Regions from separate parts of the Homo sapiens genome. Here all the other regions are linked to region 2. Evidence: fine-mapped expression QTL. A gene starts in region 2. Each other region holds a variant in brackets. All regions are shown on one strand. Distances are between the middles of the regions.

Region 1 (6,488 bases), 98 kb before region 2:
TGACCCTAGGGTAGTTTCTATATCATCTGCTGGTATGTCATTACTTCTTTAGGTCTCTAGGGGAAAATGAGACAGACATAAATGATTGAGAAGACACAATCATTCAGCAATCTCTAGGAGTTAGTTGGTCTTGAATCTTACTGCTAAGGAACGGAACCTACTTTTTAACCAAGTCATACCTTTGAGAAGACAACTCTAAAACTTCACCAATGTCACAGTATAGGTTGTGGTTCCAGAACACATGTTACCACCATCATCGCCAGTGTGAACACTACAAAGCACTTTGGTAGGTCCGACCTGAGAGCCTCCTTCTTACCTAAAAATAATCTGCTTAGGCCTCAAAATGCTGTATAAATATTTGCTGGGAAAGTACAATGAAGATTTTCATTTCAGGAATATAAAAAACCATTTTGTACTCACACTAAATAGAAAGACTTTTTAAACCCCATACTACCTTCCCACAAATAAATATCCATATAAATGAACACAAACACACAGCACTATACACTCTTTCTTCATCTTCCTTTATTGTTCTGCCCCTGAGTCAGGTCAAACCAACCTCCTTGGAACCAGGTCCCTTTTCATACTTCTTTCAGTTGCTAATTAGATGCTAAGGCCAGGCATGGTGGCTCACACCTGTAATCCTAGCACTTTGGGAGGCTGAGGTGGGAAGACAGCTTGAGCCCAGGCGCTCGATACCAGACTGGGCAACATGGTGAAACCCTGTCTATCCAAAATACAAAAATTACCCAGGCATGGAGGTACGTGCCTGTAATGCCAGCCACTTGGGAGGCTGAGGTGGGAAGATGGTGGATGGCTTGAGCCTGGGAGGGAGAGGTTGCAATGAGCTGTGTTTGCGCCACTGCTCTCCAGCCTGAGTGACAGAGCTAGACCCTGCTCAAAAAAAAAAAAAGAGTAGACGTTAAAAAGTGTGCTAAGGGCCGGGTGCAGTGGCTCCCGCCTATAATCCCAGCACTTTTGGAGGCAGGTGGATCATTCGAACCCAGGAGCTCAATACAAGCCTAGGCAACATGGGGAAACCCTGTCTCTACAAAAAATACAAAAAATTAGCTGGGCATGGTAGCGTGTGCCTGCAGTCCCAGCTACCTGGGAGGCTGAAGTGGGAGGATGGCTTGAGCCTGGGAGGTGGAGGCTGCAGTGAGCCAAGATGACGCCACTGCACTCCAGCCTGGGTGACAAGAGTGAGACCCTGTCTCAAAAAACAACAACAACAACAACAACAAAAACATGTGCTGAGTGTGACAGTCTGGTGAAAACTTAGGATGGCTAGAAGATCTTTTACATCAACTGTTACGTGCCATCATGTCTAGAAAAGGGAGAATCTATATTCTCAATGTTACTTAGTGAAATGCTCCAACGCGTGTTATTGATCTCACCTTCGATATAGCTTGGACTGTCCAAAAGTCATAATTACCAGTGGTACATGGAAGGTAGTCAAGACTAGAATGACCTGGAGAGAGAAAAAAGCATTCCGTAAATAAAAAAGATATTCCAATCACATGCTGATATGTGTTCGAGATTAAGCCAACACCTAAAAGACTTTTGATATCCCTACTTTGTAGTACTCCCCAAAGTCTAGAAGGATCTAGTTACTAGGGCTGAGAATGATGAGAAAGTCCTCAGCTCATTTTGTTGGGATGATCCCCATTGCCTCCATTGAAGCAGTGAGGCTGACTACTCAAATACACATTAAAATAAAAGAAGGCTTTAACTATTTTGTATCCAAATTATTGTAAGATACTCTCAGGCAAGAACCCTCTTCCCTTTTCTCCTTACAGAGTCTAGAATAGCGTGGGTGTTCTCACAGAGATCACTGTGTCATGTATGTCTGTCTTTTTCTTCTCCTTGCCGTTGGTTCTTCATGAAATTCATTTTTTCAGTACCTTATCTACCAAAAACTATGCATGAGGAAATGATTCTGGATGGATTACTATAAGAGTCTAGGGAGTCTCAGAAAGCCATATGAGAAATCTTGGAGATGGCTGGGCACGGTGGCTCACGCCTGTAATCACAGCACTTTGGGAGGCTGAGGCGGACGGATCACTTGAGGTCAGAAGTTCGAGACTAGCCTGGCTAACATGGTGAAACCCCATCTCTACTTAAAATACAAAAATTAGCCGGGCGTGGTGGTGCTTGCCTGTAGTCCCAGCTTCTTGGGAGGCTGAGGCATGAGAATTGCTTGAACCTGGGAGGTGGACGTTGCTGTGAGCCAAGATTGCACCACTGCTCTCCAGCCTGGGTGACAGAGCAAGACTCTGTCTCAAAAAAAAAAAAAAAAAAAAAAATTCTTGGAGATACCAACTATCTAAGATAAATGGGTAAATCATGGAAATTAGGGTACAACTCAAATTTTAGAAAAAACTGAACTATGCTTAAAGAAATTCTACTGAAAGTTTAAAAATTAATCAAAATAAGAAATTTACAATTTGCTTTTCAGCACCAAGATTTTATTTCTTTAGGCTTCTAATATAACTATCATGTGCCTCAATGCTATGACACATGCATTATGGAATACCAGGGGGCAGGAGATGTTGCCCCTGCTCTTGTTCAAGCAGGATAATAAGACAGCCAGGCAACAAGTCCTGATTTAAGACCAGGGGCCAATGTATCCTCAGCGTGTCCTCCTAGTGGGAGCCCAGCTGTATATCAGGAGGGATAAGGAGCTGACTGATCCTCCTTCCATTCCCCCAATCCTGGCAGTACCTCCTTTGTGGCAGGGGCAGGGACCAACAGATGAACAACCATGAGCCCATGGGCACCACAGTCCCTCAACACACCTGTAGGAAAGGACACAGGAACAATACAATTTGGAGGAAAAGTGCCAGGATGTTTTTAATGGACATTTTCTGTTTCTATATAGGGGTTTCCCCAAGCATTGTGCGCTTCCCTTCTCAGTACAGAGCACTTTCATCTTTCTTCTTGCTCATCTTGATGCTAAGCAGCCACCAAGGACTGAAAAGGTGTCCATCTTCCCACCGTGGAAGAAGGTGGTCAGAAGATGTTCCCGGCCAGGCGCAGTGGCTCATGCCTGTAATCCCAGCACTTTTGGGAGGCTGAGGCGCGTGGATCACCTGAGGTCAGGCGTTCAAGACCAGCCTGGCCAACATGGTGAAACCTCATCTTCACTAAAAATACAAAAAATCAGCTGTGCATGGTGGTGGGTGCCTGTAATCCCAGCTCCTTGGGAGGCTGAGGCAGGAGAATCGCTTGAACCCGGGAGGTGGAGGTTGCAGTGAGCTGAGATCATGCCATCGCACTCCAACTTGGGCAACAAGAGCGAAACTCCGTCCCCACCCCCCCGCAAAAAAGATGTTCCCAATTCTAAAGCAAAACCAACACAACTACAACTTCCTGAAAGTCTGTCTTGCAAACATGTGTTTTCTGTGATTGAGGCTAA[A/G]GACAGTTTCAGGAAGAAATGATATTAGGTGCTTAACCCTTCCCCAAATCTGTTATCATCTTCTTGCTGGGCTGAAATAACAGACTCAAAATATGACTTACCCCAGTGCTATCTCCAACCCAGGACAAGGATACTGAGCCTCTGAGATCATCAAACACATGCTATAAGGGGAAAAAAAATTAATTTAGAAATGACAGCCACTCTCCTTCAATCTTTGGCTTCTTTAAATATCTGAACTTTATTACTGTTCAGAGTAATTAAGTTCATAATTACAAAGTGGGTATGGATTCCCAGTACAAAATTTGGGAGGGATGGGATTTAACTACTTAATGTGAATCACAAATAACTTGGAAATTTAAATTCTCTCTAACACAAAGTAAGCCAAGCAGATGAGTTTTCTTTACTGCACCAGATGGGGAGATGGGAGATGGGACAATCTAATTGCTTTCTCCAACAGAACTAAATATAAAGGTATAGCAAAGTATTTTTAGGATGCTTTAAAACAAAAGATCATAGCCCACACTGGCAGGCGTAATTGTAACCAAATCAACATAATTTAAATTTTTCTGGGCATCCTTTACAGTATAGCTGAAAAGTTCGTAACTGGATTCCTTTTACTTCTAGTCTAGCTCACTCAAAAATGACAACGGGCAGAAGCAAGAAGCAAATGCCTTTGTTTCACCTTTTTATTTAATAACAATAGTAATAATGATAATAATAAAACAACCTTACTAGAGTTGCAGTGAGAGTAAGGAGGTAAAAAAGGGAAAGCTGGTATATTATATCCAAAATATAGTAAGCATGTTAAAATATAGTTATAATAATCATTGTAGGTGGTTTTGGGTTTTGTTTTTCAAATACTTCCTTTCTCTACTTATACAATAATATATATTCATTAAAGAAGATGTAGACAATTATAAGAACGCATAATAAAGATAAGTCACTCATAATCCTACCACATAGAGATATTCAAGGTTAATATTATATGTATTAATACAATCGTCTGTTCTCTATAATTTTTGTAACTGATAAAAAAAATAAAAATTCCAAAGAGGTAATAACTGCACTTGGCAAAAATTTCAAACCATATAGAAATTACATACTATATAGAGTCTATATAGCAAAGAGTGAAGATCCTTCTCTTTTCCAGGCCACATGCTCACCACCCAAGCCCCATTTCTTAGACAGTTTAATAGTTCAGTATATATTTCTAATAAATGTGGATGATTATGCTTTTTTCTTAAGACTTATAATCTTACTAAGATTTTAAAATCTTAAACATGCCTTGCCCTCCCAGATATGAGAAGCTCCTTGGAAGCTGGGGAATGTAACTTTATACTTCTTGGTACTCCCTGTGCCTTCCACAGGAATACTTTGCACACTCAGTAAGCATTTGTTGAAAATGATTACACATCCTCCCCAAACCACAAACTCAACCTCAAAATAGAACATGTCTATAAATGGTTGGGATGCCAGCTACTTGGTCACTCAAGCCACCAATCCCACATAGAAATCTAAAGAAACAGAACTCAAAACATGAACTGTTTTGTTTATCTTCGAATTTTCTCTTGCAGTCTTGAATGGGCTTCCGAATTCACGTATGTGATTTCCCCTCTGGACCGTAAGTACCTTTGATGTCAAAAGAATCTCTTACACAATTTTTGTAAGTTAGTACAATCAGTGCCTCACGCAGGTCTTGCTCCGTAAATAATGGTTAACTCTCAAATGCTCGGCAGAGCTTCTCACAGCCTCTGCAGGAAAGAAGGGCTATTCAGACATGCAGGCTTGCCAGGCATCTGAGAAAAAGTAGGGCTGCCAGAGCTTCTGAAACCAGAGGCTTAAAAACTGACATAGCAGTGTGTCTTATATGATATTTCACACATAGCAAAACCTCACATTCTCTTGAGTGAGGATAGTGTCTGAAATGACATCAATGAGGTCCTTCAGGAAAAACAGGAACATCCAGAGCTACCACAAGCACCAGGCAGATCACAAGGGCTAAGATCACAGTCATCTAAACACAGGTTATCTTTCCAAGGAAGGTCCTTGTCATAACTAAGAGAAAAGAAAAAGTCCATCAGTTATGGCACTGGAATTCGTGGTTGTCTTCATCAGGCTGTAAGATATCAGTCTTGAGCCAATCAGGACTGCAACTTTTACTTTTCAGGCAATGCTCTACACAGCCGACCCAGTCAATGCAGACTGGCATTACCCACATTTTCCTATTGCTCAACTACAGAATGAGGAGGATTATCACGTGTCACCGGCAACTCTCAGCTTCACTGAAACAACTGAAATGGTAATGGACCTCACTCATCATCCAAAGAGTTCCTTTGGAAATGTAGGCCAGATTTACTAGCAAAACTGTGGTTTTCTACTGCCCTTAAGCTGTCCCTCCCACCCACTCCAAATAACCAATGAAGATTTGCTTTTGAAAATGGGCAAACTCACTGAAAAACTCATCTACCTATAGCAAATGTAATTAATTTTTTAATATTTCAGTCTCTAACATTCTTATACTGGTGAAAGTTAAAAAAGAAAAATGAAATGAGATGTTACAGCAGGCCCAAAGGTTAAGCAGAAAGAAAAGGTCATATGGAAAGGAGATAAATCCAGGAGAGCTAGGGACCCAAGAGTACAGATTCAATCCTGCCACTTCAATGGGAGAAAAAAATACGGATGTCCAGGAAAGGGCAGACAACCTGGTCATGGTTAGGAGACAGAATTCACAAGTCAGCACAAAGCCATCAATCCTAATCCAGAATCATTTCTAATATTTAAGACAACGTACATGTCATTCTACACTGCAGTGGCATCTTAGATCTTTCAAAATATGTATTACAGCACTTTTAATTGTAGCCACAAGAACCTTGCCTGTCCTCCCCACTAGACCTGAGGTCCATCTGGTAAAGGAATCAAGCCCATACATTTCAGCAGCTAACACACAGCATAGTGCACAGTGGGCACGCAATAAATATTGAATTCTTTAAGAACTACTTATGAAGTTTTGAAAAAGATGACGCCCAAGTAAAAGGATAAGGCCAGGCCCACTTAACTTCCCCATGACAGA
Region 2 (6,391 bases):
AGTGCAGCGCTGTTTGTAAGAGAGAATCTTTGGAAACAACCTAAATGCCCATCAATATGAGAATAAATAGACTGCAGTATGCGTATGTATGTAATAGAATTCTATATAGCTAAAAGGAATGAACTAAAGCTACAGGCATCAGGCTAGATGACTCTCACAAACACAACATTAAGTAAAAAAGTGAGTTGAAGAAGGTTACCTAAAGCATGATACCATTTAGATAAAGTTTAAAGCAATTTGAAAAACAATACTACATCTGATGGGTTTCTAGGTATTGCTCCTATAGTTATATACATAGAAAAAGTAGTAAACCATGCATGAGACTGATAAAAAAACAAATTCAGAATTGGATAATGGATATTTCTGGGGAGGAAGGAGGGAGGGAGTGACATGAGGTGATATACAGGTTTTCAATTTTATGCATTTTTTTCTTTTTTAAAGAATGGATTTAAAGAAAATAATGGATTTGAGACAAAAAAGAGTTAAAGATTAACAAGGCTGGTTGGTGTGTAAGTGGATTTTTGTTGTGTTATTCTGATTCTTTTTTGATTGTGTTGTATTCTGTATGTATATTGTTGAAGACATTGGTAATGTGTATGTTTTTGTGTTTGTGTAGTGTGGCATTCACATATATCACACTATTTAATTTTTATGACAGCTTCGTGAAGTGAGTGGAACATAAATTATTATCCCTATTCCATAGAACAGGAACCTAAGACGGCAGAACAATTTTTAAACTGTGGACTGGGGACTGGGCTAAGCTGTTCCTTGCTTAGTCTAGATTTGCATGGAAATCCACTGGAGAAGTTTCCTTCAAGTCCATGTGGCCTGATCCAGCCCGAGCTGCCTTCCTCACGTCTCTCTCTAAATCCCAAGGCTCTGGGAAGGCACTTACTCAATAGGGAAGCGACTTGTATAGATAATAGCCAAATGTTTGTTCAAAAGGCATTCATTCTGATGTGCTGGGGGGAGCGGTTGGGGGGGCGGACCTGCAGGAATGACTTGGATGAGACGGATACATATTTACAAGCCAGTGCACAGGAATTTGTCCTTGGACAAATCACTTAACCTTTTACTACTTATATTTATGCTCTCGTAAACCAAGTGTGGAATATTCTCAACTGCTCACCCCTGCCAAATGCTTTTCAAAAGTTAGAGACCAAGTTACAGTTAAAAAAATGCAACGACTTCAACCCAACCAGTCCCTTCCCTTCCCTTCTTCCCTTCCCTTCCCGTTCTTTTTCTTTCTTTTTTTTTCCTCTCTCTCTCTCCCCACTTCTGTCTGCCTTTTTTCTTTTTCTTTTTTTCTTTTTTTTGACACAGTCTTGCTCTGTTGTCCAGGCTGGAGTGCAGTGGTGCAATCTCGGCTCACTGCAACCTCCGCCTCCCGGGTTCAAGTAATTCTCGTGCCTTACCCTTCGGAGTAGCTAGGAGTACAGGCACGTGCCACCACGCCCTGCTAATTTTTGTATTTTTAATAGAGACAGGGTTTCACCATGTTGGCCAGGCTGGTCTCGAACTCCTGGCTTCAAGTGATACACCCGCCTCCGCCTCCCAAAGTGCTGGGATTACAGGCTTGAGCCACCGCGCCTAGCCAGACGTCAACTTTTCAGTACGTTTCAATATATTCTTTGCGCCTCATTCCTCAAAGACCTTTTTTCACTCTCATTTAAATGGTAATGACCATTTTAAAGGAGATTAAGTTTCTACTTGTTAAAGATTAATAACTTTTTTTTTGGAGACAGAGTCTTGGACTGTCGCCAGGGCTGGAGTGCAATGGCGCGATCTCGGCTCACTGCAACTTCCACCTCCCGGGTTCAAGCAATTCTCCTGCCTCAGCCTCCTGAGTAGCTGGGATTACAGGCGCACATCACCACACCCGGCTAATTTTTTGTATTTTTAGTAGAGACGGGGTTTCACTATGTTGGCCAGACTGGTCTCGAACTCCTGACCTCGTGATCTTCTGGCCTCGGCCTCCCAAAGTGCTGGGATTGCAGGCGTGAGCCACCAAGCCTGGCCAATAACTTTTAAATCACTAACATACAAATGTCTTTTGTTGTTTTAAAAAAAAATCAAAACAATACCTAGCTAGACAGGATAAAAAATCAGCAGCTTATATTCTATCGCCCTTTTGTCGGTACTGGCGGTATGTTAATCGTGAGGCTTAGAACCTTGTTTCACAGCCCTGATCGTGCCTTTTGAGAATCTTTTACGTTCTGGATATTCTGGTATGGAAGAGGAGAAAAACCGGCGCTGGGCAGTTTGCAATCCAGGAAAATAGGGAAGGATAAACCTGAAGCCTGTGCGTCCAGGTGCGCCTGGCTAGGGTTTCCGACGGCCGCGGTGTCTCGGTGGGGACCGGTCCCGGAGGCTTCGGCGAGGAGGACCCGGAGTCCCCCCCGCCCCGCGGCGGAACTAACCACGGAGGCCTCTGGTCCCTTTAAGGTGCCCGGCGAGCGGAGAAAGGGAGCAGAGGGGGCGGGAGGAGGGTTCGGGAGCGCACGCCACGTGACCCGGCGGCCAAGTTCGCTGCGAGTTTGACAGAAGTTTGAATCCGAGTCGGGGGCTTTCTGCTGCCGGCGGGGCACCGCGGCGGCCGCAGCCTCTGAGAGCACGAACAGCAGCGCCCCCGCGTCCCAGCCAGCCAGCCAGCCAGACTGGACTCCGGCCCACCGACGGCCGCTCGCGCTCCGGCCCCGCTCGCCTGCTCTGCCCCGGACCTGCAGCTCCCCGCTCCCCCGCCGTGTCCGCCGCCTCCCGGCCAGAGAGCCAAGCCACCACGCCGCGCCCAGCGCTCGCCGCGCCAGCATGTCCTCGACCGAGAGCGCCGGCCGCACGGCGGACAAGTCGCCGCGCCAGCAGGTAGTCCCTGCGCGCCCAGGACTCTCACCCGCCCCTCTCCACCTAGATGTCGGGCTGCACACTTATCCCACCCCTGGACCGCGTGTGAGTGGGGCAAGGGGACCAGCGCCTTCCCAGGGTTCCCCACCGCCCTGACCCCCCGGCCGGCTGTGTCTCCGCAGGTGGACCGCCTACTCGTGGGGCTGCGCTGGCGGCGGCTGGAGGAGCCGCTGGGCTTCATCAAAGTTCTCCAGTGGGTGAGTCGCTGCCCCGGCCCCGGGCTATTTCGGGAGCCTGGGCTGTGACGCTGACCTGAAGCAATGGAGCCAGGGTGGGGGCTGGGGAGGTGCTGCGGCCGGGCCACGGCGGAAGGGTGGGGGGCGGCGACAGGTGGGCGGGGGAGGGGCGGGCTGGGGCTGCTTCTCCGGACTTAGTGGCAGGAGGGTGAAGAGCGAGGCATGCGGAGTCCCGGATTCGGTCCTTCTATGTGCAAGGAGCCTTTGCCCAGGGCGCTCACATTTCACCCGGGCGAGAGGACCCGGGTGTAACCTTTCCAGAACTCTGATCCTGCACATACCACTCCTTGGTGACGGGAGGGGGGAGAAGGACGACGGGGACGAGGTCCGCTCTTCACCAAGAGGGAAGCCGCAGAGGGCAAAGGAGGGAAGGAAGCAGGCGATGGAAACCGTCCTGCCCCCAAACCCACCAGGGCCTGGATGATCCTGCAAGTACTGGGCTCAGGGGACAGGCTCTCGGCTCGCCGTTCCCTTTTGAGGTCACTGGAGTAATCCGAGTTCCTGTAAATGAGTGAGGGAGTGGATGAATGAATGAACGGAGCTTGTGGTTCTATGATTAAATAAAAGAAAAAAATAAGAATAAAAATCACGGCATGGCTAAAATGTGGCATGTAGAATAAAATGGAACACTGATCTGAGAAGCTGGGGCCCTGGGATCCAGACCTAGACTGGCCTTTTCCAGCTATGTCACCTTGGGCAATTCATTTCTCTGGACTTCAATTTCCAACACTAGTTAGATGTTGATCAGAACCTTCCTAGGGTCTCCTTATGCTCTAAATAGTTTGGTGTGCCAGAATATGGCCCTAGGTTAGACTTACTTTGTGACCTTGAAAAAGTCACTTGCTCAGGTCCTCAGTTTCCCCTGTTACAGTCTAGTGGAAATACTATCTTGCTTCACTAGGCCAGTGCCTAAGGCCTCCTGGGTATAAATTAGGAATGTGGACAGGTGCAGTCAATTTCTCAAATCATAAAGACTTGTAGGGGGCATTTAGTGCACTATTGCAGAAGAGATTTTAAATTAGACAATCCACATACCAAATGGTGTGTGAATAACTTAATTAATGTGCTCTCAGTACAGAATTCAGCTAGGGAATAAGTTACCATTAATACTGAGGAGGATTGAGTTCTACAGGGCTTTGGAGACAAGAATTAGCACTGTGACACCAGTTCTTAAATCATGGTTTGGATGAGAATAATCAAATCTGGAACCCAGGGGCAAAAGTGCATTTGGGATTATCGGGCCAGCCTGGGAGCTCCCAAGTGCAAACTCTGGGACCTGGTGGGGACTCTCCACCTTTCTTACTGCCTCAAGAGTGGTTAGACCAATTGCTGATTGAGCTCTTTTGCCTTTGGCCCCTTCCCTGTTCTGATCCACCACTCAAGTGCCAGAGGGAGCCATATAAAAATGATATTAAGGCTCTGAGTGACTGGCATCCAGAACTGGAAGAGCCATTATAAGCAATTTTACCATTAAATTAGACAAATGGATCCAACAGAATTTGAGACAGACTGTCAAAGGATAAGGGAAACAATGAGGTTATTAGACCATGGACTCCTCTCCCTTGGAGGGATTCTGAAAAGCTTCCTTCTTCAATCCTGCCATCCTTCCCTCCACGCAGCACTCCAAATACCCACAACATTTCTGTAAAGGCTGTACAAAGCAATGCCCAGGGAAATGATGCAGTCTTGGGGTCAGCACTAATGACCTAGGAATTAAGATCTGATAGACTTTTATGATCTTCAAGTACTTAGAAAGGGGGTTGTGCAAAACAGAGACCCTTTTCTCTCAGAATGCTAAAACCTGGGCCCTGGGCTAGACTCTGAATTCAGATTTCATTCACAGGGTAGCATCACAAAGAAACGTGCTTTGCTTTTATTGCCATCCCAGGTAGCCTGAATTCAGGGCGCCAGTTTCACTTGCTTTGAAGCTCTGCAGATGAGGTAACATAAAAAGTAAACAGGCATTAGCACCAGAAATGACAGTGGAAATGTCATTTGAGTTTTTCACTCATTTCCTGTTTGGAGGGATCAAATGCTCCTGATTGGAGAAGGAAAAAAGAAAACACAAAGCTTGCAGTTATTGTAATGGTAATTGAGAACTTTTGTTGTCATTATTACCAAAAAGCAAAGATTTTACTGGAATCTTTGTGAAAAGAAAGTAATGTTATTCTTTTATTTGTCAGGAGCTTATCTTAGAGTTTTTTTTTTTTTAATTGAGAAATCAACTAATCTCACCTCAATTCCAATTCTGGAGTCTCACTAAGTCTATACTAAGCTAGCAAAAATAACCTGGACATAGACCAATTATTGGAGAACTAGTTTTTTTTTAAAAAAGAAAAGGACATCAAATCATAGGAGTTCAAGATAAAAAAGAAAAGAAAAGAAGTATCTTAAAAAAAATTTTCTTTTTAAGAAAAAGACACACTTTGGGAGGCTGAGGTGGGAGGATTGCTTGAGCCCAGGAGTTTGACACAAGCCTGGGCAATAAGGGGAGGTCGCGTCTCTATTAAAAAATAAAATTAGTTGGGTGTGATGACACATGCTTGTGGTCCCAGCTCCTTGGGAGGCTGAGGCTGGAGGATCATTGAGCCCAGGAGGTCGAGGCTGCAATGAGCTGCGCACTCCAGCCTGAGTGACAGAACTAGACCTTGTCTCAAAAAAAAAAAAAAAAAAAAAAAAAGGAAAATAAAACAAAAGAAAAAGGAAGATAGAGACAGATTTTTGAGGTCAGATAGGCTTCGGTTTAAATTGAGTCCCCTCTGCTTTCTTGCTTTCTAGCTCTGGAACCTTGAGTGAGTAAATATCAAATCTTTTTTTTTTTTCAGACAGGCTCTAAGATAGAGACTGGCTCTATCGCTGAGGCTGGAGTGCAGTGGTACGAACACATCTCACTGCAGCCTAAATTTCCAAGCTCAGGCAATCCTCCCACCTCAGCCTTTCAAGTATCTGGGACCAAAGGCACATGCCACCATGCCTAGCTAAGTTGTAAAAAATTTTTGTAAAAATCGGGTCTTGCTATGCTGCCCCAGCTGGCTTTGAGTTCCTGGGCTCAGGTGATATTCCCACCTCAGCCTCCAAAAGTGCTGAGATTACAGGCATGAGCCTGTTACCTCGCCTAAACAAAACAAAAAACAATGAGATAAGCGTGGGAGTAGGACCTGGGGAGAGAATTTGTCTTCCTTGTGCTCTGAGCTAACTGGTGATGTTAGTGTCCTCAGGACTGTCACAGGATTATCACCAGCGAGCATGTCAGT
Region 3 (5,270 bases), 39 kb after region 2:
CTCAGCCTCCTGCGTAGCTGGGACTACAGGCGCCCACCACCACACCCGGCTAATTTTTTGTATTTTTAGTGGAGACGGGGTTTCACCGTGTTAGCCAAGATGGTCTCGATCTCCTGACCTTGTGATCCACCTGTCTCGGCCTCCCAAAGTGCTGGGATTACAGGCGTGAGCCACCGCGCCCGGCCTAGTTTATATATTTTTTAATGCTTGGAAAAACTCAAAAGGCATGTTAAAATATGAAATTCAAATTTCAATGTCCATAAGTCAAATCTTTTTTGGACCACAGCCACAGTCATTCATTTTTGTCCTGTCTGTGGCTACACTCAAGCTATAGCAGCACAGCTGAGTTGTAACAGAGACTGTGTGGTCTGCAGAGCCTAAAATATTTACTATCTGGCTCGTTAGGGAAAATGTTTGCTGACCCCGGTCCATCTTAATGCCTAGATGTGTATTTCACCCATGTCCGTACAATAGCACTTAAAGATTTTCTTCCTAGATAGGACACACCCTTCTGAGGTACAGTGAACCCCACCCACAGGCTGAAAAAATAAACCAGTCAGATTGTGCCAGAACAGAGACTCAAGCCAGGTTTAATGATCATTGTCTAGTTTTCAGAGCCCAGAGGCTCCAAGATTTGCCAGCCTAGGTGTACACAAGTGGGAGGAATGGGGTCTTGGACACGGGAGGCCTGCTTGCTTTGTCAGCAGAGCTACGAGGAAGTACAGAGGTAAGAACACACAGAAAACTGGATCCATCTGCTTTGCTCTCCCCAGCTGGGGTGTACCCTCTCCTGGCCCCTTTCTTGGGCCCCATAAATACAAAATAATAATAATAATAATAATTACACAGATTGTAGAGCCCTGTCATCCTCTGTCTCCAGGGACACCTGCTTCCTGGGAGACATGTCTGGTTTATGGGTGTGGGGTAGGGTAAGAGGAGGTGGTGATCTCTCGGCCTTTTCTTATACCCACACCTGGCAGTTTTCAACACAGGGTTCTAGTGCGCTTACATATGCTGATTATTCAATTCTCCAATTAAAAAGCTACCTTTGGGTTCTATCACCTGAAACCACGGGAAGAAACAAATCAAATCTCTTGGTAGGGCAGCCAGGTACATCTACCAGGTGTCTCAAACTCAAGGCCAAACTAGTGGATATAGTCAGGAGACTTAAGAGCCACAGGGCCTTTTCTCATTCCCTAAACTGGGTAGGAATTATGAAGAAAACGGCCCTCCCAGTCCTCAGGAGCTCCATCACGATGCCCCAGAAGGCCTGCTTCATTTAACGCTCACTTTAAAGATCTTCAGAGCCCTAGATGGTGCCAAGCGGGGAGACTGCAGCATGGAGATGAGATTTTCCCAGATTTCCTGATGAGTCTGAGGAGGGAGTCCTAGTTCCTATAGCTCCAGTAACAAAATTCTCAGGAGTCTCTGGAATAAATCAAGACAACTTTTCTCTCCTGAGGACAGTTAACAGGAAGAGCAGCTCACAGCTACTTAGCCCCTTGCCAGTTTCCTTCTGAGTCCTTCAATGACCTAGTTCTATCTTAATTGCTCATATATTGCTCATATATATAGTCTTCACGGGAGGTTTCTGAGGAGTCCAAAGAACCAGGTAGCTCCTTACCACCTCTTCTCCCAAGGCCTTCAACCCATGGTTCTTCTAACTCCAGCCTGGGCAGAAAAGTGATTCAGTGCCATGGAGATGTGGGTGAAGCTTCAGGGAGTTCAGAAATGAAAATACAGGAGTGTGTATTTGAAGAGCCTGGCATGGTCACTGTCTCTCCTAAAGAGGAATACAATTGTGTGCATGAAGTTGTGCACATTGGTGGAGACCATTCTGAGAGTATCATTAATGGGGACTACAGATTCACTGTCCTGGTGGAAGTCAAGGTGCTGGTGTGCATGCATACCTATAAGCATGCATACCTATGAGCATGCAGGTACTTGAGGGAAATGCTGCACCTCTCTCTCAACAAAACTAGGTTACTAATAAAGGATGGACAGCAGTCTTGAGTTCCCAGGACCAGACAAGGGGAAGATGTTGAGTCCCCTTCCCCAATCATAATAGGAAGCTTAATAGTCAGGCCCTCCAAGCCCCTCACCCACAGGTAAATGACACCTCTTAGAATGTAAAAAGAGGTCAGAAATCTAGAGGATCTGGAGAACTTCCAATGGACTAGAAACGTGGGAGAGAAGAGACCCTAAGAAAAACCAACATCAGAGAACATTTTCACCTTCACCCTGCTCATCCCCCGCCAAAGCTCAGAGCAGCCACTCACAGGGCATGCAGTGTAGTCAAAGGGAAAGGTTAAAGGGATCGGTCATCTCCATACTCAAAGTATTCTGCAACCTTGGATGGAATGGAATGTTGAGCTCATTCTTCTTAAGTTCCTCTGGCCTCACAACCACAACTGCAAAGACCTCTCGATGGAGGAATGGGGTGGCAGAACTCCCCTTCTGAAAGTTTAGTACTACTGATTATCTCTGCTTCAGGATTGCCTGGAATCTGTGGAGAGGGCAGAACTTGAAGCTGCACTCCAAATTGCCATTCTGGGGTAGAGACCACCCAATTCCAACCCTTCTGATGTCAAAACCCCATGCTTTGACTTTGCAGCAGAGGTGGTATCTCTGAGAGGAGCAAGGCAACCTTGTCCACACAGAGGAGATATATACTGGATTTTCACTATCGCCAAGCCTACTCTAAGCCAGCTGGGGCCAGGCTTTCTTGGACTCCTCCCTTTACAGAGCAGCATATTAGGGAAAATTCAGAATCCCACCTGAGCTTGATAAGGAGACTGGATGAAGAGATGGCATACATTGAGAATCAGCTAGGTCCAGCTGGATGCTACATAATAGAGGCTGATTTACCTTCATCCTTCTATCGTGAAGTGGGCCCATGTACCACGTCTGTGGCAGGCATCCATAAAAGCTCTGCCTTCAGCAGCCCCCACTCTGGCCTGACACACA[G/C]ATGCTGGGAATCAAATACTAACCAAGGGTTTCACCAACCAGGGAATTAGCCTATCTGGAATTCACCCCCCATCTACAAGTTTCGTGCTGGCACCTATGCTGTGACATGGACCCTTCAGTTCATGCTATAACCCTCTGTGCCATTGGTCCCAGGACAAGGCACAGATACCACATCCCACATTGCTGTTGTAACTAAAAGGCAGCAGGCCAGGCTCCTGCAAAGATCCATCCACCCAGGGCACATCAGGAAAAAGGAAGGCTTTAATGCAAAGTCTTACAACAGCTTTGGGGAATTGTTACCGATTGAGGTCTCAGCCTTTTCCTGACTCATTTTCCAAAGGTTTTCAACTTCCCCAGCTGTGAAGTTTGACTTGCTAAACAAAGAAGATACTACAGCTTTTCCCCAGTGTGGCTCCTGTGGAAGCTCCCCCAACACACACAACATCACAGGTGTGGGTGGGCAGAGATAGAAAAAATTTTTTTTTCTAAATGTTTTTCTCTTAAGGAGCTAGGGATGACCTCATGAAAGTTTAGGGAATCTGTTCTTCCCCTCACTCCTTCCTCATTCCCATCCAACTCAGACATGCTTCTCTTCCTCTACCACACTGAGAATTGGCAGGGCTTTGGGTACGGGTGTAGCATTTGCCTGAGGATTAATATACCCCCATTTGAAAATCGTGGCAGCCACGCCCTGTTTGGGGTCTTGCTCTCTGTTGTACCTGGGACCAATTCCCTTGAGGTCAGGAGGAATCCATTCCCTTGGGCAGCCAGCCCTCTCTTCCATCCCCTCATATCCTTCAGGGGTGCATTACCTCTCCTGGGGCAGAATCTCCCCACCAACCCATCCTGCTCACACCACAATGGGCGTATCAGAGAAGACCGAGCTGACTGATTCTGGATCCGACATCCTCCGTTGGCCCTTGCCTGTGGCCTCAGGCACTGGCAGGGTGTTGCCTGGCTTGAGCTTGCCGTTTTGACCCTGCCCAGGTCCAGCAGGTTCCAGGAAAGCCACCCGCCGGTCAAAACCATCATCTTTGTCCCCACCAGCCATAGGATCATGGTTGGGTGTGGTACTAAGCATGGAAGAGCTGAGGCTGTCTCCTTGATGGCTGGAAGGCTTCTCTACACCCCGGCACCAGCAGCGGCAAGGGGTGAGGTATAGGTATATGAGGACCAGGACCACACTAAGGATACAGCCCACTAGGGTGGTATAGGCTGTGTTGAGGGTGTCATGGTGTCCGTGCAAGGTGAAATTGTGCACTTTCAATTCCACAGACAGTGTCTCATTGAAAGTCTCTCCCATGGCATAGCAGGTATACACACCACCGTCCTCGACCTGCACCTGCTGGAAAAGAAGACTGCCATCCTTAGACACACTCACTGTGCCATTGGTCACCTCATCTAGCACCCGTTCATTACTTGGTGTCACCCACACCTTGGTCATCCCTTGCTGCTTGGTGTCACACTTGATGATCAAGGTGTCACCCAGGTGGGCCTCCCAGGCACGCTCCTTGTACTCGCCACAGTTGAGGAAACTCAGGTTGAAGACATTGTGCAGCTTCTTGGAGTTCATGCAGTACAGATCCTCTTGAAAGTCCATCACGGAGCTCAGCTGCCGATACTGCCAGTGTGAAAACAGCTGGTAGAGCTCACAGTCGCAGTTCAGGGGGTTGTTATGTAGGTACAGCCCATTCTTGATCCAGGCCGGCAGCTTCTGCAGGTCAGGCAATGGCAAGTTCTTCAGCTTGTTAGAAGAGAGATCCAGGAGCGTTAGTTTGGGTAGCTTGGCTCCTTCCTTGACCAGTTCCAGAGGGAAGCGAGAGATCTGGTTCTGGCTCAAGTAGAGTTTCTGCAGCTGGGCCATGTCATCGAAGGCGCACCGGTCCACCGCCATGATGTGGTTATTGTAGAGCAGCAGCACCTCCAGTACTTGCAGGTCACTGAACAGGAACTCATCCAGTGTACGCAGCTGGTTGGAGGAGAGGTCCAGGTAGCGCAGGTTGGGTACCGGGGAAAAGGCCTCAGAGGAGATGAAGTTCAGGTGGTTGTGGCTCAGCAGCAGGGAGTGCAGTTGGGTCAGGCGCGTGGGGGTCCACTCGGCCCGCAGGCGGCTCAGGTTGTTGTGACTGAGGTCCAGTAGTGCTGTGTAACTGGGCAAGGAATGGGGCACATTGGGCAGCTGCTGCTTGGAGCAGCTGAGGATGTTGCTGGCGCACAAGCAGGCGGCAGGACAGCTAACCACGGCTCGGCCAGCTCTGGCCACCTCAAAAAGCAGCAGGGACAAGGACGGCAGCAGGAGCCAG

Direction of the effects. Positions count from the first base shown, and alleles are read on the strand shown. Sizes are in standard deviations (SD) of each study's normalised expression.
In carriers of allele G in region 1, the expression in thyroid of the gene that starts at base 2,511 in region 2 tends to be lower than with A alone (moderate effect, 0.48 SD a copy in GTEx).
For the expression in tibial nerve of the gene that starts at base 2,511 in region 2, G is the high allele of the variant in region 3 and C is the other (small effect, 0.30 SD a copy in GTEx).

The links. PIP is the estimated chance that this variant, and not a neighbour inherited with it, causes the effect.
Region 1: its variant is the best candidate, but not a certain one, in a credible set for the expression of SYPL2 in thyroid (GTEx, PIP 0.86).
Region 3: its variant is the best candidate, but not a certain one, in a credible set for the expression of SYPL2 in tibial nerve (GTEx, PIP 0.74).

The regions. Positions count from the first base shown.
Region 1 is chr1:109,366,011-109,372,498 of GRCh38, forward strand. It overlaps SORT1 (sortilin 1), which reads right to left. Exons shown (of 20, transcript NM_002959.7): 2 at 3,520-3,579; 3 at 1,398-1,471. Among named protein-coding and RNA genes, the nearest start is that of SORT1, 29 kb to the right of the region's middle. The variant A/G (reference allele first, on the strand shown) is at 3,419.
Region 2 is chr1:109,464,036-109,470,426 of GRCh38, forward strand. SYPL2 (synaptophysin like 2) reads left to right here and starts at 2,511. Exons shown (of 6, transcript NM_001040709.2): 1 at 2,511-2,862; 2 at 3,024-3,098. The coding sequence starts at 2,809. RefSeq lists enhancers at 1,942-2,443, 2,444-2,943.
Region 3 is chr1:109,503,614-109,508,883 of GRCh38, forward strand. AMIGO1 (adhesion molecule with Ig like domain 1) reads right to left here. Exons shown (of 2, transcript NM_020703.4): 2 at 565-5,270. The coding sequence ends at 3,818. Among named protein-coding and RNA genes, the nearest start is that of AMIGO1, 3.5 kb to the right of the region's middle. The variant G/C (reference allele first, on the strand shown) is at 2,968.